2 separate regions of the Homo sapiens genome follow, and region 2 is linked to region 1. The links come from fine-mapping of genetic effects on gene expression. A gene starts in region 1. The other region holds a variant in brackets. All regions are shown on one strand. Distances are from middle to middle. Region 1 holds the start of IBA57 (iron-sulfur cluster assembly factor IBA57). Region 2 overlaps WNT3A (Wnt family member 3A).

Region 1 (3,027 bases):
ATCAGCATGACATTTCACGACATCAAGAATAAAGAAAAGCTTCTGAGAAAAACACAGTTCACATACAAATAAGAACGGCACCAGACTTCTCAGAAAAGCTGGCAGCGAGAAAACAAAGTTGTGATGTGAACATTGTCGGTGACAATTTCCAAGCTAGATTTTTACACCCAGCCAGGATATCAGGTAAAGCCACTAGCAGAGACACAATGAGTCCAAAAATTCACCCCACGTAGCTCAGGAAGTCATTAAAAAGGTGTCCATCCCCTGAAACCAAAACACAGGAGTAAGCTGAAGAGAACAAGAACCGGGTCCGCCATAGCAGGGACAGCAGGCAGGCGGCCGCGAACCAGATCCACTCCACCGGGCGGAGGTTTCAGGGATCCAGGTCCCTGGAAGCTGGGCAAGGGAAACCCAAGGCTGTAAGCAGTCAAGGCCCTGACCCGGCATGAACATCACTGACAGTCGTGATGTCAGCACAGATGACTGAGCCAAATGCCAATGTGACCAGCTATGGGGAGACACAGGGAAACACAAGGTAAACAGAACTCGGGAGTGTCACCACAAGCTGTCACTCAGAAACACAGCTCTGCCACCAGGCGGGGCCCCTGAACCCCTTGTCCCTGCGGAGGGAGAAGGGTCACCAGATGGCCCACTTGGGAGGTGCCCACCTAGAGACGCCTCTGCTCTGATATGGTGGGCTGGCCCCCAGGCCTCCCCTGGATGAGTCGCTGACCCATCCCTGGGTGTTGAGCCAAGCCCTCCTCTGGGTGCCCTCCCCCGGGTGCTGGGCCCTGGGTGAGCTTCCCCTGGGTGTCCATCCCAAGTGGAATCTCCTGGGTGCCTGACCCTGAGTGCCAGTCGCTGGCCCACCCACCCTTGAGCTTCCACCCCATCCCGGCCCTCCCCGGGTGCCCACCCCCCACGCCCTCTGCAGGCCCCGGGCGCCCGCCCTGTCCCTGGGTGCCGGTCCCTGGCCACTCCCCTGGGTGCCCGCCCCCGAGCGCCCTCCCAGCACGCGCTCACCCGTACAAGATGACGTCATAGAGCGTCCGGCCCTGCACGTTCAGGAAGTGGGCGTAGCCCGCGCGCGCAGCAGGCGGGGCCCCCGCGGCCGCAGGACTCGGAAGCGGCAGTTCATTGGTCAGCAGCCCTAGCAGGAAGGGCGCCGCGTCGGGGCCACGCACGCGCAGCAGGGTGCGCCCGTCCAGCCGGAAGCAGGCCCAGGCCGCTCCGGCCGTTGGGTCGCCACCAGGACTGCAGGAGCTGTGGGCCAGGCGGCACCTTGGGGCCGCGCGCAGCCGCCAGCGCCAGACCGGGCCGCCGCGCCCCGGAGTGGCGCCTCGAAGCAGCGCCGCGGTCGCCATCTTGGACAAGAGTGGGGCAGCGGGAAGGGCCCAAGGAAGCGGGAGGGGCGGGTGCCACAGCGGCCCCTGGCGGTGGCCGCCGGAGGGAGGCGGGAAGGGGCGGGCGCAGAGTGCGTGCGTGAGGGGTGAACGGAACGTGCGTGCCTGAGGGGCGGAGCAGCGCCGGTTGAGGCCGACTGAGAGTGCGTGCGTGAGGAGCAGGGCCTCCCGAGCTGGAAGGGGCGGGCGGGGCGAGCGTGCCTGCTGGGTGGGTGGGGCATGCGTGTGGGGCGGAGCATCGTGCGCGGGGTGTGTTTCGGGGCGGGGACTCGGCCTATCCGTCAGCACGCAGGCTCCACCCTCGGTAGGTAACGAGGTTTCTGCCGGCCTCTTAAGCGCCATCCCATGTCCCATTCGGTGGCCTTCCTCGTTTTCACCCACCCATGTCGGGCACCGTCACTCATCTCGAGAACCTCTTCATCCTCCCAACCTGAAACTCCCTGTTAAACACCCACTCCCGAGGCCCTGGAGCTCCCATTGTACCTTCTGGCTCCATGAGCGTGCCTCCTCTAGGGACCTCACAGGAGCAGAATCCTACGGGATTTGTCGTTTGCGACGGCTTATTTCACTCAGCATAGTATTCTCAAAGTCCATCCACGGTCTAGCATGTATCAGCATTTTATTTTTATTTTTATTTTTATTTTTATTTTTTGTAAAGACAGGGTCTTGGTTATGTTGCCCAGGCTGGCCTCAAGCTCCAGAGCTCAGGCAGTCCTCCCTCCTCAGCCTCTTGAGTAGCTGGAACTACAGGCGCTAGCCACCACACCAGCTAATTTTTGTATTTTTTTTGTAGAAATGGTCTCCCCATGTTGTCCAGGCTGGTCTCAAACTCCTAGGCTCAAGCGATTCACCGGCTTTGGCCTCCCAAAGTGCTGGGATTACAGGCGTGAGCTACCGCACCCGGCCGCTTCCTCTTTCCTACCAGTTCGCCAGCGTCCACGTGTGGCTGTTGTGTCATTTTTTTCATTTGCTGGACCATTGGGACTTCAGCTGCAGGTGGCAGGAGGCTCCATCCCCAAGTGTCTCCACGGATAAGGACAGGCACCATCCAGCCCACAACCCCTCCGCACCCCTAATCAGTGTGACATGATGAGACACAATCACAGCTTCAAATCACATCCTTGGTAACTTCTGCTTTTTTCAGGCCAGGGTCACCCCCATCATGTGTCTATAGTCCTCTTCAGTGCAGGATTCCAAGCTCCCCTGGAGCCCAGCCTGTCCTCCCACAGGACGTCCTTCCAGACCACAGGACGTCCTTCCAATAACTCTCGTCCTCTCTTCACAGCTGAACTCACAGAGGACAATTTAGGCAGGAACCACACACTGCTATGACATATCCACCCCACCGTGCTTTCTCGAGGAGTGATGTCCCATACCCCCTGCTGAGCAGCCCTGTACAGTGGCCACTTTCCCTGGTAGTAGGTGACACATCTACAAGGTGGCCCCAGCAGCCTTCAGCCCTAGAGTCTGACTGCCCTGGTCCAAGCCATCCCTGCCTTGCTGGCCTCCTGGGGCCCATGCACCCTGTTGACATTCCCCTCTCCACTGCCCTCCACTCAAAGCACCAAAGAAGACTTACTCAATGTGTCCTTATGGTGCAGAGTCCCAGCAAGCAGAGGTCTTT
Region 2 (2,500 bases), 120 kb after region 1:
GAACGCACGTTGCTCCCATAACAAGAACATACAAAGTGGAAGGTATTTGAGGCTATGGCTTTGCACTGGCATCCCCCTGGCTGTTGACAAAGCCCCCTGAGCCCCTCGGGCCTGCTTTGGTTGACTTTTCTGTGGATTGGCCAACAGCCCCCTGATGGCGGGTCCCAGCAGCCCCGTCCCTCCCTAGGGCCCTGTCCAAGTCAGGCCTGGACACCCACTGCATCCAGCCACAAGCCCAGAAGAAAACTGTCCATTTCTTCTGTATCCACTTCCCACCACCAGCTCAGGAAGGGCTCTGCTTGCTGGCTGGAGACTGTCCAGTCCTGAAACAGCCCCAGCCGCCCAGGCTGCTGTGGCCTTCCCAGGTGGCCCTGGGGCCTCTCAGCCAATTTGCCCCTCCTGGTTCTTATCTGTGGGTCCATCTCCCACCTCGCCATGAAGAGGCCCCTAGGAGGCCCCAGCCTCCAGCTTCCTCCTTCCACCACATGCATGCACAGCCACATGCGCACATGCGTGCGCACACAGACACATGCATACCACACACACATGCACACCCCACCTGATGCACATGCACACACACATGCAAACACACACATATAGGCATGCACACCACACACATGCACACATCACACGCATGCACACACATGCACACCCCACCACACACAAGCACACATGCACACCCCACTACATACATGAACACATATACACATGCATGCAAGCACAGCATACACATGCACTCACATACATGCACATCCCCCCCACACATGCACACCATGCAGGCATACCACACATACCATACACATGCACACACATGCATGCACATACCCCACATATACACACCCCACCCCATGCACATGCACACACACAAATACACACACACACCACACAACACATACACATACATGAATACCATACACATACATGCACACACAACCCCCACATGCACGCCTCGTGCAATGCACACACAGACACATGCACACACATACATATGCATGCATGCACACCATACACACCACACACATGCACACCTCCCACGGATGCACATATACATTCACAACCCACCACACACAAACACATGCATGCACACAGATGCACACACACACACACCCCTCCACATGTGCACCACACACATGCAAACACATGCATGCACACACATGCACACCTCTCCCTCGCAACACACTATCTGCAGGCTGAGGTCTTCGCCCAATGCCAGTTTGGCCATGCCAGGCCCCCTCTGGATCTATCTCCTCTCCTGACCTCAATGCCACTCC[C/G]TGGCCTCAGGCCGCACTCAGCCCTTTGTCCTCCCCTCGGGCTCTTTCCGGTTCCTTCCTTGGCTCAGGCTGGACCTGCTGTGCCCCTGCCTGCTCTGAGGGGAGCGGCCAGGGATCGGGTGTCCTCTACACCTGGCTGCCCCTCCCCAACCAGGAAGATTTGCCCACTGACTCCCTCCCTAGCCGCGGCTGCCTAGGGGCAGGGACTGTTTGGCTCACCTTTTATTTGCAATCTGGAGCACAAGGCCCAGCCCATAGATATTTCCTGGGGCCAGAATGAAAGGCAGGAGCCGTGGGCTGAGTCAAGGAATGAGCAGGGTCTGAGCCTACCCAGAGCAGACCCACCCTTGCCCCTCTAAGGCACCCAGGCCCATCATGCAACCTCCGCTGTTTCCTTTCCCAGGGAGCAGCTAGGCAGCCACCTCCTCCGCACCTCTCCAAGAAACTTAAAGCCCCCACCCCTGACCCCATGTTACTTCCCTAACACAACTGATCAGTTCACAGACAGGCCTGGAGGGGCCTTTGCTGAACCCACTGCCTCTGAGTGAATACACGTGTGGCTGGATGCAGAGCACTTCCTCTCTAAGCCTCCAGGCCTGAGCGCCTGTTCTTGTCTTTAAAGGACTCAGGTCGTCCCCTCCCTAGTCAGCGCCCCTTCCCCTGCCATCTGCCCTGCTTCCCTTCTAGGGCAGCTTGAGAGGTAGAGTTGAGGAGTGTCCTGGGTGCTCCTGGAGCTCACGCATGGCACACAGCTCCACCTGCCCTCCTGGCCGGACCTTCTCACTCCCAAATGGCCTGGGCATCCCACACCCTGAATACCCCACCCCAGCTGAGTCTGCCTTCCCACCTCACGGCCTGGCTACTACAAGAGTCTGTCTCCAAGGCCAGCCCCTCCCTCTTGCTCCTGAGCTTCTGGTAAGAGGAGAACCAGAGCCTGAGGCTAGGGCTCTCTGTGCCTCACTCATGCCCTGCCCATAACAAGGGCCTCGAGATCCCTGCTTATCAAAACTCAGGCAAACAGCCCCAATAGCCAGACACACTCAAGGGCAAGGGCGGGTGGTGCTGAGGGCTTCCACTTGGACAGAAAAGAGCTCATTCTTGCTCAGTTTGGTCACCAGCTGGCTGAACCTTGATTTTCTCTTCCATCACATGTGGAGGTGGAGCTCCCTGCCAGGCTGAGAAAACCCTGGAGCAGGCCTTCAATTCACTCGTGAAGACTGAAGACAAGA

The links. PIP is the estimated chance that this variant, and not a neighbour inherited with it, causes the effect.
Region 2: its variant is the best candidate, but not a certain one, in a credible set for the expression of IBA57 in whole blood (INTERVAL, PIP 0.73).

What each region holds. Positions count from the first base shown.
Region 1 is chr1:228,164,154-228,167,180 of GRCh38, reverse strand. IBA57 (iron-sulfur cluster assembly factor IBA57) reads right to left here and starts at 1,377. Exons shown (of 3, transcript NM_001010867.4): 1 at 1,024-1,377. The coding sequence starts at 1,364. It overlaps IBA57-DT (IBA57 divergent transcript), which reads left to right and starts at 1,669. Exons shown (of 2, transcript NR_103540.1): 1 at 1,669-1,707; 2 at 2,689-3,027. LOC124904534 (a long non-coding RNA gene) reads right to left here. Exons shown (of 2, transcript XR_007066913.1): 2 at 1,999-3,027. RefSeq lists a silencer at 746-1,785 and an enhancer at 890-1,792.
Region 2 is chr1:228,044,920-228,047,419 of GRCh38, reverse strand. All of the region lies in intron 2 of WNT3A (Wnt family member 3A), which reads right to left. Among named protein-coding and RNA genes, the nearest start is that of LINC02809, 30 kb to the left of the region's middle. The variant C/G (reference allele first, on the strand shown) is at 1,272.